4 linked regions of the Homo sapiens genome follow. The protein of the gene in region 3 interacts with the protein of the main gene of each other region in a pairwise test. Each region holds a gene or a part of one and is shown on either strand. Other genes may lie near its edges. The genes, in order: CASP6, SETDB1, BAAT and HIP1.

Evidence for each region.
Region 1: the proteins of BAAT (region 3) and CASP6 interact in binary tests that used the Homo sapiens proteins (3 or more experiments, as listed by UniProt).
Region 2: the proteins of BAAT (region 3) and SETDB1 interact in binary tests that used the Homo sapiens proteins (3 or more experiments, as listed by UniProt).
Region 4: the proteins of BAAT (region 3) and HIP1 interact in binary tests that used the Homo sapiens proteins (3 or more experiments, as listed by UniProt).

Annotation. Positions count from the first base shown.
Region 1 is NC_000004.12:109,700,440-109,708,106, reverse strand, and holds the start of CASP6 (caspase-6 isoform alpha precursor), read left to right. Parts: upstream 1-4,661; 5' UTR 4,662-4,711; coding exon 4,712-4,751; intron 4,752-7,667.
Region 2 is NC_000001.11:150,922,490-150,929,387, forward strand, and holds the start of SETDB1 (histone-lysine N-methyltransferase SETDB1), read left to right. Parts: upstream 1-3,873; 5' UTR 3,874-4,028; exon of another isoform or gene 4,029-4,055; intron 4,056-5,214; 5' UTR 5,215-5,225; coding exon 5,226-5,485; intron 5,486-6,898. UniProt on the Homo sapiens protein: Histone methyltransferase that specifically trimethylates 'Lys-9' of histone H3. H3 'Lys-9' trimethylation represents a specific tag for epigenetic transcriptional repression by recruiting HP1 (CBX1, CBX3 and/or CBX5) proteins to methylated histones.
Region 3 is NC_000009.12:101,374,998-101,382,022, forward strand, and holds part of BAAT (bile acid-CoA:amino acid N-acyltransferase), read right to left. Parts: intron 1-7,025. UniProt on the Homo sapiens protein: Catalyzes the amidation of bile acids (BAs) with the amino acids taurine and glycine. More than 95% of the BAs are N-acyl amidates with glycine and taurine.
Region 4 is NC_000007.14:75,735,937-75,742,820, forward strand, and holds the start of HIP1 (huntingtin-interacting protein 1), read right to left. Parts: upstream 3,006-6,884; 5' UTR 2,985-3,005; coding exon 2,865-2,984; intron 1-2,864. UniProt on the Homo sapiens protein: Plays a role in clathrin-mediated endocytosis and trafficking. Involved in regulating AMPA receptor trafficking in the central nervous system in an NMDA-dependent manner. Regulates presynaptic nerve terminal activity.

The sequences.
Region 1 (7,667 bases), on a different chromosome or scaffold from region 3:
TAGTATGAGATGAGTTCCTTATACTTATTTCTTAAGTATTCATTATACTTATTTTAATATATTAGAAGTGGTGCCTTAACACATTTTAATTTTTTTCCCACTCTAAGGTTGCTTACTTTTAAAATTACAAGGTCCAGAGGAATTACAAAAGATAAAGCCACCGTTTCATCAAATCTGAAAGCATTGTCAAAGTAAATTTTTTACAATAGCCAACCACCCAAGGAGGAGCTAAATTAAATCCAACATTGAGCACCCCATGGCACCTTGTTGGCACACTGTTTGGCTGCTATTTTTGGGGTAGGACAACATGCTCTCCCCAGGAAACACCATTATCTAGAGACCCTCATCATTCTGTGAATTTCTGCATGGTTCTGTCCCTGAATTAGCTCTACCTATGAAAGCCAGATTTGAAAAATCCAGGAGAAGCCAGGTGTCGTGGCTCATGCCCGTAATCCCAACATTCTGGGAGGCCAAGGTGGGCAGATACCAGGTCGGGAGTTTGATACCAGCCTGACCAACATGGAGAAACCCCATCTCTACTAAAAATACAAAATTAGCCAGGCATGGTAGTGCACGCCTGTAATCCTAGCTACTTGGGAGGCCAAGGCAGGAGAATCGCTTGAACCCGGGCGGCAGAGGTTGCGGTGAGCTGAGATCATGCCATTGCACTCCAGCCTGGGCAACAACAGCTAAACTGTCTCAAAAAAAAAAAAAAAAAATCCAGGAGTTACCTCCAGTTTACTTTGGCCCAAGTTTCATATACAAAGAACATTTAAAATAAGTTACTGCAAGTCCTACAAAGTAACTTGCACTGGGGAAAGGACTACACATGAAACAGGAACATATATGCCACCCCCTATGGGATACCTCAGAGGGATTTCGAGTTTGGTTCCAGACCACCAATAAAAGAGTCACACAAATTTTCTGGTTTCCCAGTGCATATGAAAGTTTTTCATACTAAAGTGTAGTCTGTTAAGTGTGCAATAACATGTCTAAAAAAATAATGTATATACCTTAATTTTAAAATATTGCTAAAAGATGCTAGGGATCATCTGAGCCTTCAGCGAGTTATAAATGTTGGTGTGGGGTATTGTTGAGGGCTGCTGACTGATTAGGGTGGTAGTTGCTGAAGGCTGGGATGACTGGCAATCTCTTAAAATAAGGCAATAAGGAAGTTTGCTTCATTTTTTTGTTTGTTTTGAGATGGAGTCTCGTTCTGTCACTCAGGCTGGAGTGCAGTGGCATGATCTTGGCTCACTGCAACCTCTGCCTCCTGGTTCAAGTGATTCTTGTGCCTCAGCCTCCTGAGTAGCTGGGATTACAGGTGCCTGCCACCGTGCCCGGCTAATTTTTGTTATTTTTAGTAGAGACAGGGTTTTGCCATGTTGGCCAGTCTGGGCTCGAACTCCTGGCCTCCCAAAGTCCTGGGATTACAGGCATGAGCCACTGCACCTGGCCATCCATTGATTGTTCCATTCACTAAAGATTTCCCTGTAGCATGTGATGCTGTTTGGTAGCATTTTATCCACAGACCTTCTTTCAAAATTGGGGTCAATCCCCCCAAACCCTGCCACTGCTTTGTCAACTAATACCCTGAATCCTTTGTTGTCATTTAAACACAATTCACAGCATATTCACCAGGAGTAGATTCTATCTCAATAAACCACTTTCTTTGCTCATCCGTAAAAAGCATCTCCTCATCTATCAAAGTTTTATCATGAGATGGCAACAATGCAGCCACATTTTCAGGCCCCACTTCCAATTCTATTTGTCTTGCTACTTCTGCCACATCTACAGTGACTTCCCTCACTGAAGTCTTGAACCCCTCAACATCAGTGATGAGGATTGGAATTAACTTCTTTCAAACTCCTGTTAATGTGGAGATATATGCATATACCTATGTATAATGTATGTGTGTGTGTATATGTGTGTGTGTATATATATATATATATATATATATATATATATATATATAAAATGGATAGGTATGTTGTCCTGCCTGTAAAATACCACCCAGTGTGCCAATTGAAATATATATAATTTTTAAATATTTATATATGTATTTTATATATATTATATATATATATATATATATATATATATATTTTTTTTTTTTTTTTTTTTTTTTTTTTAAAGAGTGTCTTACTCTGTCACCCAGACTGGAGTGCAGTGGCACAGTCAGCTGACTGCAGCCTCAAACTTGGGCTCAAATAATCCTGCCATCTTAGTGTCCTGAGTTGCTGGGAATACAGGCATGTGCCACCACTCTTGGCTAATTAAAAAAAAAAAAAAATTGTAGAGACAGGGTCTTGCATTGTTGCCTAGGCTGGTCTCAAAACTCCTGGCCTCAAGCAATCCACCTTGGCCTCCCAAAGTGCTGGGTTTACAGGCATGAGCCACTGTGGCTGATACATGTACTTTTAATTTTTCGTTTTTCTTTTTTTCCCCCTCTAGTCTCTAGTTACATACCGTAAGTGGATATTTTGACCTCCCATGAATCACAAATGTTCTTAATGGCATCTCGAATGATGAATCCTTTCCAGAAGATTTTCAATTTACTTTGCTCAGAACTATCAGAGGAATCATGATGACAGCTATAGCCTTATGAAATGTATTTTGTAAATAAGACTTGAAAGTCAAAATTTCTCCTTGATCCCTGGGCTTCAGAATGGATGTTGTGTTAGCAAGCACGATAACAGCATCAGTCTCTGTACATCTCTATCAGAACTCTTGGATGACCAGGTGTATTGTCAATGAGGAGTAATATTTTGAAAGGAACCTTTCTTCTGAGCACTAGAGCTCAACAGTGGGCTTTAAATATTCTCTAAGCCATGCTGTAAATAGATGTGCTGTCACTAACTAGCCTTTGTTGGTCCATTTATAGATCATATTTAGCATAATTCTTAAGGGCACTAGGATTTTCAGAATGGTAAAGGAATGTTGGCTTTAAAGTCATCAGTTGTATTAGCCCCTAACAAGAGCATCAGCCTGTTCTTTGAAGCTTTGAAGACAGGCATTGACTTCTCTCTAGCTATGAAAGTCTTAGATGGAATCTTCTTCCAATAGAAGGCCGTTTCATATACATTTAAGATCTGTTGTTTTGGCTGGGCACGGTGGCTCACACCTGTAATCCCAGCACTTTGGGAGACCGAGGCGGGCAGATTGCTCAAGGTCAGGAGTTCAAGACCAGCCTGGCCAAACATGGTGAAACTCTGTCTCTACTAAAAATACAAAATTAACCTGGACATGGTGGCACATCCTGTAATCCCAGTTACTTGGGAGGCTGAGGCAGAAGAATCGTTTGAACCCAGGAGGCAGAGGTTGCAAAAGATCGCACCACTGTACTCCAGCCTTGGTGACAAAGCAAGACTGTCTCAAAAACAAAAGATTGTTGTTTAGTGTAGCTGCCTTTATCAATGATTTTAGCTAGATCTGGATAACCTGATGCAGCTTCTACGTTAGCACCTGCTGCTTCACCTTGCACTTTTATGTCATGAAGATAGTTTCTTTCCTTAAACCTCAGGAACCATCCTCTCTGCTAGCTTCCAGCTTTTCTTTTGCAATTCCCTCACCTCTCTCAGCCTCCATAGAATTGAAGAGTTAGGGCCTTGCTCTGGATTAGGCTTTGGCTTAAGGGAATGTTGTGGCTGTTTTTATCTTCTATCCAGACCAACTAGAACTTTCTCCATATCAGCAATAAGGCTGTTTAGCTTTATTGTCTTTTGTGTGTTTACTGGAGTAGCATTTTTAATTTCCTTCAAAATTTTTTCCTTTGCATTCATGACTTGGCTTTTCTCCTTTGCACTCACAACTTGGCTAACTGGAGCAAGAAGCCTAGCTTTCTGCCTACCAACATTACTTCCTCACTAACTTAATCATGTTTGCTTTTGATTTAAAGTGACAGGCTCTTCCTTTCATTTGGACACTTAGAGGCCTTTGTAGGATTATTAGTTGGCCTAATTTCAAAATTGTGTTTCCAGGAATAGGGAGGCCCCAGGAGGGGGAGAGAGAAGGGAAAGTTCGGTGGAACAGTCCAAACACATACAGGGCTTATGGATTAATTTCCCCTTCCTTTATGAGCGCGGTTCATGGTGCCCCAAAACAATTGCAATAATATTAAAGATTACTGATCACAGATCACAACAGCAGACATAATAACAATGAAAAATTTTGAAATATTGCGAGAGTACCAAAATGTGACACAGAGACACAAAGCGAGCCAATGTTGAAATACAGGCAGTATCTGCTAAGCGGTATAAAACAATCTATGCCTGTACCTCTAGAAAGTACAGGCATAGCAAAGTAAGGAATAGCAAATGTTTGGGGCAGCTGGGATTAAATGAGTCCGAGCTCACACAAGTGATGTGAAATTGCCTCGGGCTAGGCGGTCTGTGTGTCCCCCCGGGTGGCAACTGGCATGTCCCCAGGGCACGGTTAGTCCCAGCGGGCCTGGAGGCGAAGACCGCGTACCTCTCCCTGCCCCCGCGCTCTTGGTCCCCGCGGGCTCCGGAGCGACTGGGAGGAGCTTTAACTCTGGGAAGGACCAGCCCGATCCACGGGAGCCCGGGCGGCGCGCAATCAGAACCAACTGGCCCCACGCTCGGGGGCAGGGGGCGGGGCCGCCGAGGAAGGGCCGAGGGCGGGGCCGGGCCCGGGAGCCTGTGGCTTCAGGAAGAGGAGGGCAAGGTGTCTGGCTGCGCGTTTGGCTGCAATGAGCTCGGCCTCGGGGCTCCGCAGGGGGCACCCGGCAGGTAGGCAGGGGGCGTCGACTGGGCACCGAGCAGGTCTGCGTCTTGCTCCGGCTGGAGGGGAAACGAGGGTTAGTGGACCGGGCGCGCGGACCGGAGTGGGGCCGCGGGTTCCTTCGGCTTTGCAGGGCGGCCTGGAGAAGTTGCACTCTTGGATTGAAGCGCTCAGGGCGGGTGGGGACGGTTTCGCGCTTCAGTCTAAGAAACACTCGGGGACCTGGCTGCCGCCTCCTGGCGGTCCCGAGTAGCGACGCCGGCGCCGGGGCGTGCCCCTGCCGCCTTTGTCCTCCGGGGCGATGAGCGCTTTCGGGGCGCCCCGGCTGTTTAAACCTTAAAAGGCTGTCCCCACGCGGGCCTGGCGTTCCCCCACACCTGGCCGTTTGAAATGTTGGGGGTTGGATCTTTTGTTTGCTCACTTCGAAAAGTGAAAAGGAGGGGTTGTTCCGCCGAGTCATAATGAAAACATAACAGGCCCGCGGGGTGCCCGGGCCAAGACCCTGGGTCCTCCCGGGCTTCAGCTGGAGGCGGCCAGTTCCTGGCGGCCAGCACACCCCGGTATCTCTCTTCTTCATCCAGGAAACCTGCTGCTGTCTGTCGGTTTGAGCCAAAACCACAATAACTTTTTTCTGCAAAGTAATCAACTGCTAAGAGCGTACGTTCTGTCACTTATTACTGGTAAAGTTTAGAAACTTCAAGCCTGGCCAGAGTGAAACAAACAAAAAGGTCGAAACGCCTGCAGTTGGCCGGCCGTGGTGGCTCACGCCTTGTAATCCCAACACTTTGGGAGGCCGAGGCGGGCGGATCACCAGAGGTCGGGAGTTCTCGACCAGCCTAACTAACACGGTGAAACCCCGTCTCTACTAAAAATACAAAAAAATTAGCCAGGCCTGGGCGCAAGCTACTGGGGAGGCTGAGACAAGAGAATCGTTTGAACCCTGGAGGTGGAGGTTGCAGTGAGCCGAGATCGCCCCACTGCACTCCAACCTCGGCGACAGAGTGAGACTTCGAATCAAGAAGAAAAAAAAAAAAAAAGAACGAAACGCCTGCAGTTGGTTAGAGTGCCTTTGTTTAAGAACTCTTTATATTTTGCTGCACAAAGGAAATGGTGCTCCAGAGGCAAGCTGTAAAAGTCACATGGTCGTAGAGGAGGTAGATAGGTAGCCTTGTCCTGGAGGCACAGTGCAGGGTCCAGTTGCAGTCTCTAGGGGCGGGAAGCCGGGGCTTTCCTTCACTCACCTGCTCCCTTCCTCTTCTTCCTCCACCGCACTCCCCAGTGCATGTTCTAGGCCTGATGGAGGTTACTCTACATAGGGTTACTAAATACATTGTTGATGGAGCCGATGGGTAGATTTTCATAGAGAGTGCAGTGAATGAAGACGATGACAGTAGAATGACCGAAGTCGTTTGGGAAGTTGAACAAAGTTTAGAAAGGTAGCCGGTCTCGGGTGGGAGGGGCTGCGTGGGGATGGGCCTACAGAGACTTTGGAATCTGTAGGTGGGCTGGCTTTCAATCCCAGCTTCACTTTGCCGACCTTGGCACGCCTGGCCCACTTTCTCTGTCCCTGTTCCTGAGCTGTGGAGCTGTGAGATAAGGTATCTAAGGCATCAGGCCATCAACAAATGGTAGCTGGCAGGATTATCTGGAGGGACTATCAAATTAGAGTGAGGTGAAAAAAGGAATGATTAGTTTTGTAAAACCTAAGCTGATTTAAGGAATAAGGAGGTGGCAGTTACATTATCCTGCAAAGGAAGAGAAGTGAAAAGAGGGCCAGACACAGTGGTGGGCGCCTCTAGTCCCAGCTACTGGGGAGACTGAGGCAGGAGAATCGCTTGAAACCTGGAGGTGGACTTGCAGTGAGCCAAGATTGCGCCACTGCACTGCAGCCTGGGCGACAGAGGGAGGCTCTGTCTCAAAAAAAAAAAGTGAAAAGAGGTCAAGAATCAGGTTTAAAGAAGGGCACATTTTTGATAAGTAGATTGCAGATGAAAAGGAATTTCTATATCTGTTATACAGGGTAGCTCCTTCATTAAAATTTATTTTCTCCATATCAATAAAGCTATTTCTTACTTTATCCAGGTTTTTAAATATTAACGCAGGCCGGGCGTGGTGGCTCATGCTTGTAATCCCAGCACTTCCAGGAGGCTGAGGCAGGTGGATCACTTGAGGCCAGGAGTTCAAGACCAGCCAGGACAACATAGCAAAACCCTGTCTCTACTGAAAATACAAAAAAAAAGTAGCTGGGTGTGGTGGCGCATGCCTGTAATCCCAGCTACTCAGGAGGCTGAGGCGGGAGAATCGCTTGAACCCGGAGGCGGAGGTTGTGGTGAGCCGAGACCACGCCACTGCACTCCAGCCTAGGCAACAGAGCAAGACTCCATCCCAAAAAGATAGTAATAAAAAATAAATATTAATGCGGCATAATGATACTTAAGTGCCCCCTTCTGGAAAGCTTGTCTTCTTGGGATACACAGCTCAAGGTGGTCATGATGTGTTATTTTCTCTCAATCTGTGGGTAAAGTTTATCAACTCCAGAAAAGTATTGGAACTTAGGTCCTGGCATCTGTCTCCATAGCTTTTTGTTCTGATTCAGTGTTTGCTAGAGTGGCCACTGGACCTGGTCATTAACTGGTACTGCAGGATGCAGGGTGCACTTTGTGAGAGTGAAGGTAAGTTACAGCTGGCCAGCATCAGAATTGGGATGTCCAGAGCCTAGGTTTTTTTCTACATCCGTAGCATTAACAAACAACAACAACAACAAAAAACTTAAAAAAAAAATCCCTCACTGAGGTTGCCAAATCTGTTAACTTTGAAACTGAATGTATTAAGAGATGGGGTCTAGCTCTGTTACCCAGGCTGGAGTATGGTGACTATTCACAGGGGCAGTCATAGCACACTATGTCCTAGAACTCTTGGGCTCA
Region 2 (6,898 bases), on a different chromosome or scaffold from region 3:
TACTTTTTAAATGAAATGTAGATTCAATAACTAGTACAGTTAGTGTAAAGACACATGAACAAATTAAAGCAATGATAAGACGCTGTGGTAGTCAATAAAGCTGGTTCATCAGACACACCAGGTTCTCCCTCCTCCCAGAGGTAAGATAACTGCTCTTCCTGGCCCCCTGGTGGTTGTGTAGGACTTTGTGATTCATTCAGGTCAATGAGTTGTAAAAATCAGTGTCTTGAGTCATTTTGTTAATATGAGTCCCTCTAGCATTCTTTCCCTCTGGTATTACTACTCATCAGTGTGGGTTTCCCCAGTAGCTATCATTAGCAGAGCCCCACCATACCTTCCAGAGATGATTATGTAGTGTGAGCAAGAAACACGCCTTTTTTTTTTCTTTTAAGCCACTCAGATTTTGGAGTTGTTTCCACAACATAACCTAGTCTATCCTGATACTGATACTATTTTAATACATATCAAGTTCTTAAAAATTAAGTAGTTAACACCCAGTACTAATAGGGGTGTGGGGAAACACTTTCAGATTTGCTAGTGAGAGTAATAATTGTTACAACCTTTTAGAAAGGTAATTTGACCGCAGATTCTATTAAAATGGAAAAAAAGGGGCCGGGTGCAGTGGCTCACACCTATAATCCCAGCACTTTGGGAGGCCGAAGCGGGCGGATCACCTGAGGTCGAGTGTTTGAGACCAGCCTGTCCAACATGGAGAAACCCCATCTCTACTAAAAATACAAAATTAGCCGGGCGTGGTGGTGCATGCCTGTAATCCCAGCCTCTGGGGAGGCTGAGGCAGGAGAATCGCTTGAACCCCAGAGGCGTAGGTTGTGGTGAGCCGAGATCCTGCCATTGCACTCCAGCTTGGGCAACAAGAATGAAACTCTGTCTCAAAAAAAAAAAAAAAGGCCAGGCGCGGTGGCTCACGCCTGTAATCCCAGCACTTTGGGAGGCCGAGGGGGGCAGATCACGAGGTCAGGAGATCGAGACCATCTTGGCTAACACGGTGAAACCCCATCTCTACTAAAAATACAAAAAATTAGCCGGGCGTGGTGGCGGGCGCCTGTAGTCCCAGCTACTCGGGAGGCTGAGGCAGGAGAATGGCCGGGTGCAGTGGCTCACCGCTATAAAACCAGCACTTTGGGAGTCCAGGGCAGGTTGATCACTTGAGGTGGTGGGTGGATCACCTGAGGTGGTGGGTGGATCACCTGAGGTCAGGAGTTCGAGACCAGCCTCGCTAACATGATGAAACCCCGTCTCTACTAAAAATATAAAAATTAGCTGGGCGTGGTGGTGGGCACCTATAGTCCCAGCTACTCGGGAGGCTGTTGCAGGAGAACCCAGAGGCGTAGGTAGGCTGTGGTGAGCCGAGATCCAGCCATTGCACTCCAGCCTGGGCAACGAGAATGAAACTCCGTCTCAAAAAAAAAAAAAAAAAAAAAAAAAAAAAAAAAAAAGGCCGGTTGCGGTGGCTCACGCCTGTAATCCCAATCCCAGCACTTTGGGAGGCCCAGGAGGCGGAACCCGGGAGGCGGAGCTTGCGTGAGTCGATATCGCGCCACTGCAGTCCAGCCTGGGCTACAGAGCGAGACTCCGTCTCAAAAAAAAAAAGGAAAAAAAAGGCCTGGCGAGGTGGCTCATGCCTGTAATCCCAACACTTTGGGAGGCCAAGGTGAGCAGATCACAAGGTCAGGAAATTGAGACCATCCTGGCTAACACAGTGAAACCCCGTCTCTACTAAAAATACAAAAAATTAGCCAGGCGTGGCGGCACGCACCTGTAGTCCCAACTACTCAGGAGGCTGAGGCAGGAGAATCGCTTGAACCCAGGAGGTGGAGGTTGCAGTGAGCCGAAATCGTGCCACTGCAGTCCAGCCTGGGCGACAGAGCGAGACTCTGTCTCAGAAAAAAAAAAAGAAAAGAAAAGAAAAAGAAAGAAAGGGCCGGGAGCAGTGGCTCACGCCTGTAAGTAATCCTAGCACTTTGGGAGGCGAGGCGGGTGGATCACTTGAGGTCAGGAGTTTGAGACCAGCCTGGCCAACATGGCGAAACCTCGTCTCCACCAAAAATACAAAAACTAGCCGGGTGTGGTGGCAGGGGCTTGTAATCCCAGCTACTCGGGAGGCTGAGGCAGGAGAACTGCTTGAACCCGGGAGGTGGAGGTTGCAGTGAGCCGAGATCGCACCATTGCACTCCAGCTTGGGTGACAAGAGCGAAACTCAGTCTCAAAAACAAACAAACAAACAAAAAAAGGAAGGCTCGGCGCAGTGGCTCACACCTGTATGTAATCCCAGCACTTTGGGAGGCCGAGGTGTGACGAGGCCAGCCTGGCTAACACGGTGAAACCCCGTCTCTACTAAAAATACAAAAAATTAGGCGGGCGTGGTGGCACGCGCCTGTAGTCCCAGCTACTCGGAAGGACGAGCCAGGAGAATCGCTTGAACCCGGGAGGTGGAGGTTGCAGTGAGCCAAGATCGCGCCATTGCACTCCAGCCTGGGCGATAGAACGAAACGCCTTCTCAAAAAAAAAAAAAAAAAAAAAAAAAAGGAAAAAAGCACATATTATTTTACTCAAATTCCATTTTGGGAAATCTTTTCTTTTTGTTTTTTGTTTTGTTTTGTTTTTGAGACGGAGTCTCGCTCGGTCACTTAGGCTGGAGTGCAGTGGCGCGATCTCCTCTCACTGAAGCCTCTGCCACCGGGGCTCAAGCGATCCTCCCCCCGCCTCAGCTGCGGAGTTGCTGGGACCACAGACGCGAACTACCACGCCTGGCTTTTTTTTTTTTTTTTTTACCTTGTATTTTTAGTCGAGATGGCGTTTCGCCGTGTTGCCCAGGCTGGTCTGGAACTCCTGGGCTCTAGCAATCCTCCCGCCTCGGACACAAAGCGCCCGGCCTGGGGAATCTTTTCTACAGAAATAAAAGTACTACTTCAAAAGGATGTTTATTTTTATTGTTGCGCTATTTGTCGGGGCTGAGAACGGAAAACAATCTAAACAATCTAAACTATTCAGGTGTCAAAAATACAAGTTATTGGTTTTTTGTTTTTTTGTTTTTTTTGGTTTTTTTGAGACGGAGTCTCGCTCTGTCGCCCAGGCTGGAGTGCAGTGGCGCGATCTCCGCTCACCGCAAGCACCGCCTCCCGGGTTCACGCCATTCTCCTGCCTCAGCCTCCCGAGTAGCTGGGACTACAGGCGCCCGCCACCACGCCCGGCTAACATTTTTAGTACAGACGGGGTTTCACCGTGTTAGCCAGGATGATCTCCATCTCCTGACCTCGTGATCCGCCCGCCTCTGACTCCCAAAGTGCTGGGATTACAGGCGTGAGCTACCGCGCCCGGCCAAAAATACAAGTTTTACCTTTTTTATTGGCTTCAGGTAATGTCCACATGTTAAATGAAAACAACAAAAATCCAAATACAGAAACTCGTACATACAAGACTGGAAAATGAAGCTGTATTACCTGAAAGGAGCGGAGTGGTGATGGGGCAAGAGAGAATATTATCACGTTTTTCTTATTACATCTTGATAGCCTTTACAATTTGTATCACTTATGTAACAAAACAAACTCAAGTAAAACTGAGAGAATAAAGCTCTGAACCTATGAGCGTTTCCCTAAGTCTTTACACAATGAATATAGTAATGGGGCCACTAGTCGAGGGTGGTAGGAGCGGCGGAGACTCGGTAATATACTGGCCACGCCTACTCTGCCCTGCCAGTCTCTTCTCACGTGTGCCCCTGGAAGGCTCTGCCTTAACGCATGCGTAGTTACCTTAGTTTTCGTCGCCTCTGAGGGGCGCCCCGCGGCTTTGGATTTGACCCCGTCAGGCTACCGTCGCGGTGACCGGAACGGCACTAAAGGTTTGCTTCCGGGCGTTTCTTTTGCTTCCCCTTCCCTCTTTCACGCTTCCTCCCCTCCCCCTCCTCCCTTATCCCTTCGCTTTCGCTCTTTTCCGTCGAGGCCGACCCCTGAGTTGTGAGTCTGGGGTCTGGTTGGTGAAAAAGAGCCCTTGAAGCTGGAAGACGGGAGGTGCGGGGAATACTGTTGAGTTATTTGGTGACCAAAGGCTTATCTGGGACGTTTTGTTTGTGGGAGGGGGTCGGGCGAGGGTGGGAAGGAAGTCTTCCCCAGAGGCGAACGGGGGCGGGGCTGAACTGGGTTTGCGAATGGGTAGGACGCACCCCTAGAATGGGTAGCACGGGGGTGGGCTGGTGTGTGGGCAGAGGAAAATGGAGGCGCTGAAAATCAGATTTTCTTTAACCGTTTGATTAAAAAAGCAGTTCACACGAATGTGTGAAGTATTTGGATTGTGGATATTAGGTACCCACGTTTTATTCCCAGGTTGCTTTACTTCTCTGTACTTTGGGGGAAACCTTTTTGCTGCAAGCTTTCGTGTGTTTGAATATCATAGACTTTTTAAAAAGTAAAATTCCACATGGAAGCAAAGTAATATAAGGGGAACAAGTAATGAAAGAGAAAACACTGAGTTAGTGAGTTCCAAATCAACTCCATCCCCAGGTGGGGTTTTGTTTAAATTAGGCATAGCATACAAAGATTTATCACATTAGTTAAGGAACACATATAGACCACAAAAATATCTTATAGATTGGTTCTCTTCAGTATCCCAAAAGATTATTTTTAAAGTTCGGTTTGTTTTGAGACAGGGTCTCACTTTGTCACCCAAGCTGGAATGCATGGCGCGAACATAGCTCACTACAGCAGCTACTCCTGGGCTCAAGCGATCCTCCCACTTCAGCCTCCTGAGTAGCTGGAACTAAAGGCGTGCACCACCACACGTGGCTAATTTTTGTATTTTTTTGTAAAGACGAGTCTTGCCATGTTGCCCAGGCTGGTCTTGAACTCCTGCCCTCAAGCGACCCTCCTGCCTCGGCCTCTAAAAGTGCTGAGATTACAGGTGTAAGCCACTGTGCCAGCCCAAAACATTATTTTCAGTAGCTCTCTACTGCTTAATGAATGTTCTCCATGCCGTCTCAAACTCTTAAATCTTTTTCAGGAGTGTTAGCGTACAGCAGAAGATAAGAACTCTTAAAAATCTCAGCATCAGATTCTGGAGAATAGGGAGGGAGAACATGGAATATTTGAATAGAATAACAGGCAGCAGAGTAGGAATTAGTTTTATTAGGGAACTGAAATTCTCTATTGATTGATTGTAGTTATAAGGACTCCAATTTAATTTGTTTTCTGTTCCATGCAGAGGACAAAAGCATGTCTTCCCTTCCTGGGTGCATTGGTTTGGATGCAGCAACAGCTACAGTGGAGTCTGAAGAGATTGCAGAGCTGCAACAGGCAGTGGTTGAGGAACTGGGTATCTCTATGGAGGAACTTCGGCATTTCATCGATGAGGAACTGGAGAAGATGGATTGTGTACAGCAACGCAAGAAGCAGCTAGCAGAGTTAGAGACATGGGTAATACAGAAAGAATCTGAGGTGGCTCACGTTGACCAACTCTTTGATGATGCATCCAGGTGAGAACTCCATGGAAAATAGAAGGAAATCTCTCCATTGGGAGATGTTTTTAGAGAATAATTGTTCATGACATTGAACCAAGCATTTTATTTTATGTTTTGAGACGGAGTCTCGCTCTGTCACCCAAGCTAGAGTGCAGTGGAGTGATCCTGGCTCACTGCAACCTCCACCTCTCGGGTTCAAGTGATTCTCCCACCTCCCCCTCCCGAGTAGCTGGAATTATAGGCATCCGCCACCACACCCAGCTAATTTTTTATATTTTTAGTAGAGACAGGGTTTCACCATGTTGGCCAGGCTGTGTACCAAACATTTTATACTTTATGAAGTACAGATGTTTAGAACCTTACTCTTCCTCAAAGTTTATGGTCAAAAATCTGACCTTACAATCAGCCGTAAATATAATTTTCATCTGTCAGCAGCTAATACATGATCAGCAGTAAGGGAGTCCAAGTCTTAAGTCCTTTCCCCTTCTTCCTCCTGTGCTCTATCTTAGAACAATTGCTTCATTTCCCTAGTAAGATCATCCAGGGAGTGAGGATTGTAAAGAATTTCTGTCTTACGTAACTCTGAAGCATTAGTAAGTTCCCATACCCCCAAAAGATTTGTTTCTGGTGCTCTAGTTGTCACTTAGAATACATTGTTTTTAAATTTATTATACTTTAAGTTCTAGGGTATATGTGCACAACGTGCAGGTTTATTACATATGTATACATGTGCCATGTTGGTGTCACTTACATTAGGTATATCTCCTAATACTATCCCTCCCCCTTCCCCCCACCCCACGACAGGCCCCAGTATGTGACGTTCCCCATCCTGTGTCCAGGTGTTCTCATTGTTCAATTCCCACCTATGAATGAGAACGTGCGGTGTTTGGTTTTCTGTCCTTGCTATAGTTTGCTCAGAATGATGGTTTCCAGCTTCATCCATGTGCCTACAAAGGACATGAACTCATCCTTTTTTATGGCTGCATAGTATTCCATGGTGTATATGTGCCACATTTCTTAATCCAGTCTATCATTGATGGACATTTGGGTTGGTTTAAAGTCTTTGCTATTGTGGATAGTGCCGCAATAAACATACGTGTGCATGTGTCTTTATAGCAGCATGATTTATAATCCTTTGGGTATATACCCAGTAATGGGATTGCTGGGTCAAATGGTATTTCTAGTTCTAGATCCTTGAGGAATCGCCACACTGTCTTCCACAATGGTTGAACAAGTTTACAGTCCCACCAACAGTGTAAAAGTGTTCCTGTTTCTCTACATCCTCTCCAGCACCTGTTGTTTCCTGACTTTTTAATGATCGCCATTCTAACTGGTGTGAGACGGTATCTCATGGTGGTTTTGATTTGCATTTCTCTGATGGCCACTGATAATGAGCATTTTTTTATTTTATTTTTATTTTATTTTATT
Region 3 (7,025 bases):
TATGGTTTGGCTGTGTTCCCAACCAAATCTTAACCTTGAATTGTAATAATCCCCACATGTTAAGGGCAGGGCCAGGTGGAAATAAATGAATCACGGGAGTTGTTCCCCCCCATACTGTTCTCATGGTAGTGAATAAGTCTCACAAGAACTGATGGTTTTATACATGGGAGTTCCCTGCACAAGCTCTTTTGCCTGACACCATGTAAGACATGACTTTGCTTCTCCTTTGTCTTCTGCTATGATTGTGAGGCCTCTCCAGCCATGTGAAACTTTGAGTCCATTAAACCTCTTTCCTTTATAAATTACCTACTCTCAGGTATGTCTTTATTAGCAGTGTGTGAACAGACTAATACAGTTACAAAGCAGCTTCCTCCTTTGTTGTTTGTCAGAGTGGCTCTTTGTTCCTTCAGGATCCTAAACTTCTCATTCAAAGTCATCTCTGTCTGTTTTCCAGCACAATTTATGTCAATTGTAGGGTTCCACTTTAGGAACTTTCGTTATGTCAGATTGCTTCCATTTTGTTAAAAATGAAGATACAGCAGTATGAATTAATCCTGATTTCTGTGTTAGGCATTGCACTGCTCCAGGATTGTCCAAAGATAGAGTCAAAATTCCTCCGTTTGTGGTGAAAGTGAGACAGCCAGTGGGAAGGAGTCCATGGAAAAACTCCAACCGCGGGCGAACTGGGAGGAATGCACACTGGGGTGCCACCGAAGTTTCTGCTATTTGCAGTAGGGAGGAGCCTGGCCCCTCCTCTTCCTGTGTGGAACCTTGGATTCAAATGGCGAGGCAGGGAGCGCACTAGCTGCGATTCCGGCTTTGCCGAAAGTAACTGTTCCCCCTTTTCTCCTTTTTGCCCAATAAGTTCCATTTTTCTCACTCCGCAAATTGTGAGCCTAAATTTTTGTGGCCGTGGGACAAGGACCACATCTTTAGCTGAACTAAAAAGAAGTCCTGCAACAAAAATCTGCCATTGATGAGTTCTCTTTCCGACTACGTTATCCAGCAGTTGCTGTTGTGTTCAACTGGGTCTGAACCTTCACGTCTCTTCTGAAATGAAAAGTTGCCTGACGCATGTGTTTCTGATGGCTTAATTTATTTCCATTCTTGGTAAAATTGGCTGGAATGTTTTTTTTTTCTGTTTAGCTGGTTAGGTCCCTTGAGAACTGCAACTGGTTTTTTTCTGCACTTCATATTTGTCCCAGAAGGTTTGCCTTCCTTTTTAACACTAGAAAATATCGTTCTATATTCCTGTCACCTAGAGACGGATGATTCATAGGATTAATTTCTTTGTGAATTCCAGTTGCTTTCCTAGATGCAAGGCCAGTGATAACTCCATAAAGCTGTCTCTTTCCAGGCATTACTCATCCTCTGTGCTCAGACTAGTCTTACCAAAGCCAGAATTCTGTTGAATTCTCCATCATATGCTCATCCTGAATTGCCAGGCTCCAGTTAGAAAATTATGCTTCTTTCCTCCCTGTCAATTTAGTTTGATGATATCATCCAAAGACATACCAATTTTGTTGAGATTTTCATTGTTGCGGGCTTTCAGTGGCAGCAATGGGGTCACCCTGCCTCCCACCAACCAGGTACCAAAATGGTTCATGGCTGGGGATGCCTCACTAGAACAGTCAGCAGAGAAGGCCACAGTTGGAGGCCTGCCACCTCCCACTCACGCACAAAGACTAGCTGCATTGTTGGAGGCCTGCCACCTCCCACTCGTGCACAAAGACTAGGAGCATGTAGGCATGCTGGCCCGGTTTAGTGGTATTTTAAAGATTGTTTCAAAATGAATGGAAGAAATGATATAGATACAAATAAATAGATCTAAAAGTTAGAGAAAGAGAAACATAGAAAGCAATTTTGTAAGAGGGCATTAATGGGCATTAGGTAGATTCCATGTCTTTGAAACTGTGAAAAGCTATTGTGAATAGTGCTGCAATGAACTTTCATATGCATGTGTCTTTATGGTAGAGTGATTTATTTATATTCCTTTGGATAGAGAAAAGCTTTATGGAATTCTTGTGTGGTCAAAAGCTGAGTGAGAGTCAATGAAATCATTCATAAAATTTTATTAAAATTAGCTTTACTATTGATAATACTCTAATACAAAGCAAAATTTAGTTTTCTCTTTTGAACAAGATTTTTGGATAGTATTAATGAGAGATAATAAAATTTTTGTTTACCTTTTGAGTCTTAATACAACACTATCAAATGTTGGGTGGACCAAAGGGAGTCCCTGCTGGTTCCCCAACATTAAAGAGCCCCAAATCAGTTTTCTATATTTACACCAGATTGGGGAAGTTTCAAAAATCAGAAGGCAAAAATTACAATGAGAAAGCTGATTAATAATTTCCTGGGGCAATGTGGAGACAGACTAATCAGATAAAGATTGACAAAAAGGCCCACATCCCTTGGCTCAACTCCTTGCTGGGAACCCAGAGGTTTTTTCACAAGAGAGGGTAAAATGGTCTGGGGGTGGAGTACAGAAGTTCCTGAGACTAGAGCATAAAATATAAGGATTGATAGGATTATAAAAGCTAAAATGTTTACAACACCCCTTCATGCTAAAAACTCTCAGTAAACTAGATATTGATGGAACATATCTCAAAATAATAAGAGCTATTTATGACAAACCCATAGCCAATATCATAATGAATGGGCAAACCTGGAAGCATTCCCTTTGAAAACCAGCACAAGACAAGGATGTCCTCTCTCACCTCTCCTATTCAACAAAGTATTGGAAGTTCTAGCCAGGGCAATAAGGCAAGAGAAAGAAATAAGGGGTATTCAAATAGGAAGAGAGGAAGACAAATTGTCTCTGTTTGCAGATGACATGATTCTATATTTAGAGAACCCCATCATCTCAGTCTAAAAACTCCTTAAGCTGATAAGCAACTTCAGCAAAGTCTCAGGATACAAAATCAATGTGCAAAAATCACAAGCATTACTATACCAATATTAGACAAGCAGAGAGCCAAAACGTGAGTGAACTCCCAATCACAACTGCTACAAAGAGAATAAAATACATAGGAATACAGCTTACAAGGGAAGTGAAGGACCTCTTCAAGGAGAACTACAAACCACTGCTCAAGGAAATAAGAGAGGACATAAACAAATGGAAAAATAATTCCATGCTCATTGATAGGAAGAAGTGATACTGTGAAAATGGCCATACTGCCCAAAGTAATTTATAAATTCAATACTATTCACAGAACTAGAAAAAACTACTTTAAATTTCATATGGAACCAAAAAAGAGCCCATATAGTCAAGACAATCCTAAGCAAAAAGAACAACACTGGAGGCATCATGCTACCTGACTTCAAACTATACTACAAGGCTACAGTAAACAAAACAGCATGGTACTGGTACCAAAACAGATATATAGACCAATGGAACAGAACAGAGGCCTCAGAAATAACACTACACATCTACAACCATCTGATCTTTGACAAACCTGACAAAAACAAGCAACAGAGAAAGGATTCCCTATTTAATAAACGGTCCTGGGAAAACTGGCTAGCCATATGCAGAAAATGGAAACTAGACTTCTTCCTTACACCTTATACAAAAATTAACTCAAGATGGATTAAAGACTTAAATGTAAAACCTAAAACTATAAAAACCCTAGAAGAAAACCTAAGCAATACCATTCAGGACATAGGCACAGGCAAAGATTTCATGACTAAAACACCAAAAGCAATTTCACCAGAAGCCAAAATTGACAAATGGGATCTAATTAAACTAAAGAGCTTCTGTTCAGCAAAAGAAACTATCATCAGAGTGAACAGGCAACCTACAGAATGAAAGAAAATGTTTGCAGTCTATCCATCTGACAAAGGGCTAACATCCAGAATCTACAAGGAACTTAAACAAATTTACAAGAAAAAAACAAACTGCCTCATCAAAAAGTGGGTGAAGGATATAAACAGACACTTCTCAAAAGAAGACATTTATGCAGCCAACAAACATATTTAAAAAAAGCTCATCATCACTGGTCATTAGAGAAATGCAAATCAAAACCACAATGAGATAATATCTCATGCCAGTTAGAATGGTGATCATTAAAAAGTCAAGAAACAACAGATGCTGGAGAGGATGTGGAGAAATAGGAACAGTTGTACACTGTTGGTGGGAGTGTAAATTACTTCAACCATTGTAGAAGACAGTATGGTGATTCCTCAAGGATCTAAAACCAGAAATACCATTGTTAGGAGGTCTCCAACTCCTGACCTCAGGTGATCCGCCTGCCTCAGCCTCCCAAAGTGCTGGGATTACAGGCGTGAGCCACCGCATCCGGCGAATGTCGCATTTTGACATGCCCAGGAACCTCCAGTTATTTGGAAATCTTTAGAAGAATTCACCCAATTTATACAGCTATTGCAGCCTGATGGCAAATCCCTGGCTTTGTTAGCCTCAAGGCTTTAAAAAAATCTGAGATTCTTTATTTAAAAGTTCCAAAAAAGCCAATTTTACAAGAACCTATATGGCCAATCACTATTCTTGCTGCACTTTATGCAAATAATCAGGTCAAGCATAATGAGACTAAAATTCATTTTGCAAATAAATTGGTCCTACAATAATTTATCCTTGGTAGAAATAGAGAAACTTAGAAAAAAATTGTTTCAGAAGAAAACTATTGTACACCCATGATTAGATTCTAGTCTTAACCATTGTTTTTATTACTTGCCTACAATTTGGACTAAATCCTAAATTATTTTGTGGCTACAAGAAGTCTCTAAAGACAAACCCGGTTTTAATTTTCTTCATGTTGTTTTTAGTTGGCTCCCTAATGGAATAGGTTCTTTTTTGTTGTTGTTGTTCTGGCATACAAATTCTGTTTTTGATTGTAGTCCCTTGTGTGCATATTAATGTTATTTATCTCTCATTGTTTTACTTCATCCAAGAAAATCAAAATCATGGTACTCCAAAGACTAGAGATGATTCAAGAAAGCCTATGCATTTTTTCTCATCTGAAATCCCACTGGGCCTGATCTGTTTCCCATTGCCAGTGCACTGCTGCTAAAGCTGTACAATATCAAGCACCCTTCCTCTAAACTCAAAGACCATTGAAGAAGAGGACAGTGTGTGAGATTCTAAAAGCCCAATTAGAAAGCTGGAGTGTGGAGGTTATAGCAACTCCATCTTGAATTCTAATCTGCCAGTTGACATCTGATTAATCCCACTTCTAGGAATGCCTTTAAGATTTCTGCCTTATCTACTATCTCTTGTATAAGAGCACCTACCATAAATCCTACCCTTAGGCAAATTCCTACATATTCCTGCTGAAGCATGTATATCCTTTCCCTATGGTATATCAACCCTGGGTCTGGGGAGTAACAGTGAGGGGATCCTTTGTCTCACAGCTGCCTGAGACACAGCTTCTGTTTGTAAGCCCCTATTAAATGTTTCTCTCTGAGAAACTGTTTTGTCACTCTCTTTGTTCAGTGTCTCAGCTCCCTTGGCCTTTGGGGGTAGGTTTGCACAGACCTGCTCACTTACCACAGAGCAAGCTTACTCACAGCATGGTGGCTGGGTTGGAAGGGCAAGCAACACAAGAGAGAAAAAGCTAGGTAGAAGCTGTATCCTTTTTATATCCTAGCACTGGAAATCACATAGCATAATCTCTGCCATTTAATAGCAGCCACAAGCTCCCATCAAAATTCAAGTGGAGAAAATGTTGATACCTATTAACAGTAGGAGATATGTCAATCACATTGTAAAATTTTTTTAAGTGGATGAAACGTGTATGTGTATTTGCTTTTTATTTTTTAAGATGGAGTCTTGCTCTGTCGCCCAGGCTGGAGTGCAGTGGTGCAATCTTGGCTCACTGCAATCTCCACTTCCCAGTTCAAGTGATTCTCCTGCCTCAGCCTCCCGAGTAGCTGGGATTACAGGCACCCACCACCATGCCTGGCCAATTTTTTTGTGTTTTTTTAGTAGAGATGGGGTTTCAGCATGTTGGTCAGGCTGGTCTCAAACTCCTGACCTCAAATGATCCGCCTGCCTCAGCCTCCCAAAGTGCTGGGATTACAGGCATGAGCCACCGCACCTGGCTGTGTGTGTGTATTTGTATGTGTATTTGTGTATACATTTTTGGGAAATGCAATCTGCCACAAGAGGAAAGGAGGAATAAAGGAGCAAATAATAAATGGGATGAATGGAAATGGGAGTTTAAACCCACACATATCAATAATTACGTTAAATACAAACAGATCAAACACTCCAATTAGAAGACACAGGCCAGGCGTGGTGACTCATGCCTGTAATCCTAGCACTTTGGGAGGCTGAGGTATGAGGACCGGTTGATCCCAGGAGGTTGAGACCAGCCTGGGCAACATAGTGAGATCCCATCTCTACAAAAAAAAAGTAAAAATTAGCTGGGTGTGGTGGGGCAAACTTGTAGTCCCAGCTGCTTGAGAGGCTGAGGCAGAAGAATTGCTTGAGCCCAAGAGGTCAAGGATGCAGTGAGCTGTGATCATGCCACTGGGTGAAAGAGCTGACTCCACCTTGGGTGAAAGAGCTGAAATCCTATCTCTAAAATAAATACATACATAAAAATAAAAAAGAAGACAGATTGTCAAACTAATTGAAAAAGCAAGTGGTTATTTTTCAGAAACACATTGTCAAAAAAAGACAGATTGAAAGTAAAAGAAAATATATGCAACAGTGTTTGTGTTGCATATATGTGTATATATAGATGAGAGATGAGACAGACACAGACATAAATACATGCTGACAAGAATGAGCCTACAGAGAGAGAAGTCCTGAGAATGATAATTCAGTGGTGAGTAAACATTGAATATGTTTCCTGAGAAGCTTAAAAATAAGTGATACTATAGCTTCCAAGTACCGTATTTCATTTGTTTTCTTGTAATCAAGAAATTGAGTACTTAAGATCATACAGAAATACATGAGAGTCAGAAATGGAATCTACATTTCCAACTCTTAGTCAAATTGATTAGTACTTCAAAAAGAATTTATCAAGAGTCTACATGTCATAGTCACTGACAGATAAGATGCA
Region 4 (6,884 bases), on a different chromosome or scaffold from region 3:
GTTTCAACACCAGAGGCTGGGTGCAGTGGCTCACACCTGAAATCCCAGCACTTTGGGAGGCTGAGGTGGGAAGATCGCTTGAGGCTAGTTCAAGACCAGCCTGGGAAAACACAGTGAGACCTCCGTCTTAAAAAAAAAAAAAGTTAAAAATAAGAGTTTCAACATCAGAAAAATTCTCTTTTTCTGCTCCACTCTACTTCACCCCCACCCACCCCACCCAGGTCAAATCTGGCCAATCACAAATGTCCCACAGAATGTAAAACACCAGAAAACACTGACCTAGACTCTCCTGTTGGGCCGTCCCTGGATAGCAGGGAAACATACCACTCACGGGTGGAAACTTTCACAAACCTAATTTCTATCACTATTATGGGTCAAAGTCTTACGCATATTTCTCTATTGCTCTAGTTTTTACTTATTTGAGACTCTAGAAGGAACGGGTTGTTAAAAAATAATATCTATTTATTTTCTTATTTCATTTATTAAAAAAAAAAATAGGGCTGGGTGCCATGGCTCATGCCTGTAGTCCCAGCACTTTGGGAGGCAGAAGCAGAAGAATCACTTGACGCCAGGAGTTTGAGACCAGTCCGGGCAACACAGTGAGACCCCCATCTCTATGAAAATATAAAAATAAAAGGAATATACACACTGTTTCATGGAGCAAGAAGCCTCATGTAACTAGGCAGCTAGCAGAGGCACTAACATCCAAGACCAATGGAAAACTTCCTTCTTTTCAGGGGTCGGGTCCATGAAACCAGAGAACAAGCCTCAAACCTAGCTGGATCCTGGGAGGCAGAAGTGAAATGACCATTTCCCACTTCCCTCCTGGGGTAGGATAACCAGGTAGAGAAGACTCCCTGCTTCACACCATCCAGACACACCTGCATGGAGGCACTTTCTTTTTTTCTTTTTCTTTTTTTTTTTTGTAGAGACAGGGTCCCACTGCTTCACACTATCCAGACACACCTGCGCGCGGTTTTCTTTCTTTTTTTCACTTTTTTGTAGAGATAGAGTCTCACTCTGTCACCCAGGCTGGAGTGCAGTGGCACGATCATAGCCCACTGCAGCCTCAGCCTCCTGGCTCAAGTGACCCTCATGCCTCAGCCTCTCAAACAGCTGGGACTATAGGTGTATGCCACCACACGAGGATAATTTTAAAATTTTTTCAAAATAGAGGCGGGATCTCAGTGTGTTGTCTAGGCAGGTATCGAACTCCTGGGATCAAGTGATCCTCCCACCTTGGCCTCCCAAAGTACGGGGATTACAGGTGTGAGCTAATGCACCCAGCCTAATTTTTTTATTTTTTGTAGAGACAGGGTCGCACTATGTTGCCCAGGTGGGGGGCCAAAGGTTTTCAGAATAAGAAGAGGGGATGAAGTCCTCTGGGGGTGAAAAGCTTTATTCTTTTTTATTATTATTATTTTGAGACGGAGTTTCGCTCTTGTTGCCCAGGCTGGAGTGCAGTGGCGCCATCTCGGCTCACTGCAACCTTCACCTCCCAGATTCAAGCAATTCTGCTGGCCTCAGCCTCCCAAGTAGCTGGGATTACAAGCGTCTGCAACCACGCCCAGCTAATTTTTTGTATTTTTAGTAGAGACAGGGTTTCACCATGTTGGCCAGGCTGGTCTCAAACTCCTGACGTCAGGTGATCCACCCGCCTCGGCCTCCCAAAGTGCTGGGATTACAGGTGTGAGGTACCGCGCCCGGCCAAAAGCTCTATTCTTTGAAAGATTCCATATACAGAACCTTCAGTCAGATTCTCACTGTCTTTTCTAACTAAAATCCCAAAGCCCTTTCCCTCCAACTGTGTTTGGGGGAAGTATTCCTCGCATAACACATCAGGGGACCAGCCTCTGGAGAGGGGGACCCAAATGGATCTTCAAAGGTTCCACTCTGAGCACAAGAGTGTAGAAGAAATCTGCCCCTCCAGCATTGGCACTGGGATTAAAAGAAGCGTTGTACTCTTTGAAATGGATTTTACATACAAATGAATTGATGAACACCATCAACATGTCAGCTTAATTCAGCCCAATCAATACACCAGGCATTAAAAACTCGGAGAAAAAAATGGATTGTGGCTTTTTGTTGATGACACTGAGGAATTTTGGCCCCAAGCCCTGGCCAGGCAGGACAAATAGGGCAGTCTGCCTATTAGCTGTCAGGCACATCTTGGGGGATAAAACCAAGACCCCAAGTCAGGGCTCAGGGGCACCATGGTCTCCACTTTAGCCCCCAAAGTAATTTTCCCACAAAGTGGCCACACTTTGCATTTCCTACATTCCTTTTCCCTGCTCCGACCCCTTCCGCCCGGCCTCAGAGCTGACAGCTGGGGCTGGCCAGAGCCAAGCAAGAGGCATCGAGAAAGGGGGATGCTAAGGGGTGGGGGGTGGGAAGGGATGTCAATGCAACCAAGAAGTGATCGGAGGGGAAGAGAGGTCCCCTCACCCTTCACATTCCCAGCCCGGCGCCCCCACTCTCCGCCCCCACACTTGAGCCTCCAAGTGGCTCCCGTGCGCTTCCCTTGTTTAGGGGCAACCCTTCCATTCCGCCCCTTTTCAGTTCCTTCCCCTCTCACCTCATCTTGGGACTCCTGCCCGGTACCCAGCCGATCAGGCTCCTCTTGGCCACGCATCCTGCCATCTCCTCCGAGCCCGCCTCTGCCCTTCTCCCCAGGCCAGCTGGGGTACCCTGGGGTCCCCGACCTTCCTGGGATCGCCCAGATCTGCACGTCAATGCCCCCGCTCACTACACCCTCGCCCCGTCTTCAACTGGGGCCTGCAAGACTCCTACTCCCTTCAAAGCCCCTCCCGGACACCGCGTCCCTCAGGGTGCCCCAGGGATGCCCCGGGGTCCCCCGTCCTCACCTGAGTCCGCTCGAAGCTCTCGCGCTCCGCCGCCTCCAGCCCAGCGCCGACCCCGCGCCGGCTCAGCACCTTGGGCAGTGGGTTGGGCACCTGCTTCATGGAGCTGGCCATCCGATCCATGTCGCCGCGAGGAGCCGAGTCAGGGGCCCTCGGCTGCCCCGGGATCCCCACGGCGCCGCCCGCCCCGCCCTACCCGCGGGGATCCGGCGCTAACGGGACGGCTCCCGCCTGCCATTGGCTGTGAGTTCTGCCAGTCTTCCAGAGACCCCGCCCCTCGCCGAACGGCTTCCCCGCCCGCCCCCGCCCCTTCAGGAGCCCCTCCGCTGGCTCGGCCCCGACTAGCCTCTCGGGGCCTCGAGGCGCGTGGTGACTGGTCTGGAGTCCTGTCAGTCACCGTGGTCCCGCCGTTCTAGGCAGGGCCGGGGCGGGGTGCGGACGGGGCGAGGCCTGGATGGGGCGTGGCCTGGGCGGGCTGCCCTGATATGCCCTCGCTCGCCCCGCCCCCGCCCGCGCACCGCCCTCTCCTCCCCTCGGCCGCAGTCCCCGCGCGCCCCGAGCGTGCTGCCCTCCGCCAAGCGCCGCCCACTACCCTGCCCGCTCCTGCAGGGGGCTATCCCGCGACGGCCCGTGGAGATGGGCGGGGATGACGCGGGCCGGGCAGTGGGGCCTCCCCCGGGGGAATCCCAGCCCGCCTGCGAATAGCCCGTTAGCTCCTTCCGGGCCTGGGACCCGGGAGCGCCGGACTGACCAGCCCTGCGGCCGCAGCCCGGGAAAGCGCAGCCCCGCGGGCGGGGCGCAGCGTGGGCGCCTGGCCGGATCCGGCTCAATGGGTGGCCGCCCCCACCCAGCTCCCAGGCTTCCCCGTCCTGCACTTCTCCATTCTGCCCCTGCCCATGCCCTCTGCAAGGATCGCAGAGCCCAGGTCCCGGAGTTCGGGGCTGAGTCCGCGGGCACCTCCCGGGACCTGCCTCCCAAACCTCATCAAAGGAACCCGTCAGAGCTTATTTGTTGGTAGAAAGCCCTGTAGACACTTTCGGTTTATCTTAGGCTCTGAGCCGCGCGTCCCATCCTGCTCAGACGTCAGCCAGGGTACCAGCAAGCAGAGAGAAGTGTGATGCTTAGCAGGAGTGCTGGAGAAAGTTAAAAGTTTTCCGTTAAACTCCAATTTAGGTGTGTTTTTGTTTTTGTTTTTGTTTGTTTTTTTTTTTTTTTTTGGTTTCATTTGGAGTCAGTCTCCCTCTGTCGCCCAGGCTGGAGTGCAGATCGTAACACACTGGGACCTTGAGCTCCTGGGTCCTAGCGATTTTCCTGCCTCGGCCTCTCGAGTAGCTGGGACTACAGATGCACGCCACCAAGCCTGGCTATCTTTTTTGCAGAGATGGAGTCTTTCTATGTTGCCCAGACTGGTCTCGAACTCGTGGCCTCAAGCAAGCCTCCCACCTTGGCCTCCCAAAGTACTGTGATTACAGACATGAGCTACAGCACCCGGCATAGATGTATTTTTTAAAAGTTATTTGAAACTCGGAGTAATGAATGGCACCTTTAGGCCTAACAATTTGGTGATTCGTGTGTGTGTGTGTGTGTGTGTGTGTGTTGTAAATTTGGCCAGGTGCGGTGGCTTACACCTGTAATCTCAGCGCTTTGGGAGGCTGAGGCAGGCGGATCGTTTGAGCTCTGAACTTTGAAACCAGCCTGGGCAACATAGCAAGACTCCATCTGTACAAAAAATTTTAAAATTAGCTGGGCGTGGTGGTGCAAGCCTGTAGTCCCAGCTACTCACAAGGCGGGAGGATTACTTGAGCCAGGGAGGCAGAGGTTGCAGTGAGCAGAGATCGCGCCACTGCACTCCAGCCTGGGAGACAGAGCGAGACCCCGTCTCAAAAAAATATATACATATTTCTTTGTAGTGAGGGGTATGTTGCTGGATTGCCCAGGCTGGTCATGATCTCCTGGGCTCAAATGATCCTACCACCTCAGCCTCCCAAAGCACTGGGATTACAGGTGTGAGCCACCCTGCCCTGCCTGTTTTTTTTTTGTTTTTGTTTTTATTTTTTTTAATAAGAGCGTTTGGTAAAAATTCACACATTCAATAGAGAAGTGAAAGAGGGGTGGGCATTTGCGGTTACTAAGGAGCCACTGAAGACTTTTGCTCAGATGTGTGCACTGAGGAGCTTGTATTGTGGGGATGGATTATGGGGGCCTGATGGAAGGGAGGAAATCAGTGGGGAGACTCTAGCGTAGATGAGAGATGATGAGGGCCTAGAAGAGAAGGGAGAGGAGGAAGTTCTGTCCCGTGGGAGGTTACGCAAATAAGGCTTGGACACAGGGATTGGGGGATGGGCAATGGCGGTGCCATTCAGGCTACATTTGCATAGGAAGGACTGGACTGGTTTCACCTTTACTTAAATTGTGTTTCTGTGGGAGGCTTTGGGAGTGCCCCCTCCCTTGTGTTGCTTTGGGAGAGATTAGATGTCACCTGATTTTTCATGTCTAGGGAGAGGGAGATGACAACTGAGCGTGGGAGCACGGTAGGGGCGCTGACAGAGGAAGAGGAAATTACCTTGGCCGGGCACCGTGGCTCACACCTGTAATCCCAGCACTTTGGGAGGTCGAGGCGGGCAGATCACTTGAGGCCAGGAGTTCAAAATCAGCCTGGCCAACATGGTGAAATTCTGTCTCTACTAAAAAATACAAAAAAGTAGCCAGGTGTGGTGGCATGTGCCTGTAATCCCAGCTACTCGAGAAGCTGAGGCTGGAGAATCACTTGAGCCTGGGAGGCGAAGGCTGCAGTGAGCTGAGATCGCACCAGTGAACTCCAGCCTGCATGACAGAGTGAAACTCTATCTCCAAAAAGCAAAAAACAAAAAACAAACAAACAAAAATCTCAATTTTTAAAAAACATTTATTTATTTAGAGATAGGGTGTAGTGACTTCCTGCTGTTCCAGCAAATCCTGGTGCTTTGCCAATTTACCCGTCCTGGTTGATTCCCCTAACTCAGGTCACACCTTTGTACATAGTTTCTTCCTTTTTTTTTTTTAAGAGACAGACTCTCGCTCTGTTGCCCAGGCTGGAGTGCAGTGTCGCAATCTCAGCTCACTGCAGGCTCTGCCTCCCAGGTTCAAGTTATTCTCCTGCCTCAGCCTCCCAAGTAGCTGGGATTACAGGTGTATGCCACCATGCCCGGCCAATTTTTGTATTGTTAGTACAGACAGAGTTCCACCATGTTGGCCAGGCTGGTCTCGAACTCCTGACCTCAAGTGATCTGCCCGCCTCAGCCTCCCAAAGTGCTGGGATTACAGGCATGAGCCACCATGCCCATCCATGTCTGGCTAATTTTTAAAAAATTTTTTGTGGCCGTGCCACAGTGGCTCATGCCTGTAATCCCAGCACTTTGTGAGGCCAAGGCAGGCAGCTCACTTGAGGCCAGGAGTTCGAGACCAGCCTGGGCAACGTGGCAAAACCCCGTCTTTACTAAAAATACAAAAATTAGCAGGGTGTGATGGCACGCGCCTGTAATCCCAGCTATTTGGGAGGCTGAGGCACGAGAATCGCTTGAACCCTGGAGGTGGAGGTTGCAGTGAGCCAAGTGTGATGGTGCACACCTGTAATCCCAGCTCCTCAGGAGACTGAGACGGGAGGATCCCTTGAGCCCAGGAGGTCGAGGCTGCAGTGAGCTATGATTGCACCCCTGCACGCCAGCCTGAGAGACCGAGACCCTCTCTCAGGAAAAAGAAAGAGAAGGAACTATGTACAAAGGTGTGACCTGAGTTAAGGGAATCAACCGGGACAGGTAAAGCACCAGATATTACTGGAACACCAGGAAGCTGTTACCATCTCTAGACCTAAAGAGAAAAGGGGAGGGAGCTGTGCTGTAACCTGGTGGGGGCTCTGGTCATGGGAAAGTAGGCATTTTCCCAGAGCTGTGACCTTAGGTAGAAAACCCACAGTCACTGTGGAAAGTGGCGTGGCAGGGAGGCAGCTGGGGGATGAATACCCCAATCTCTCTCTCTCTCTTTTTT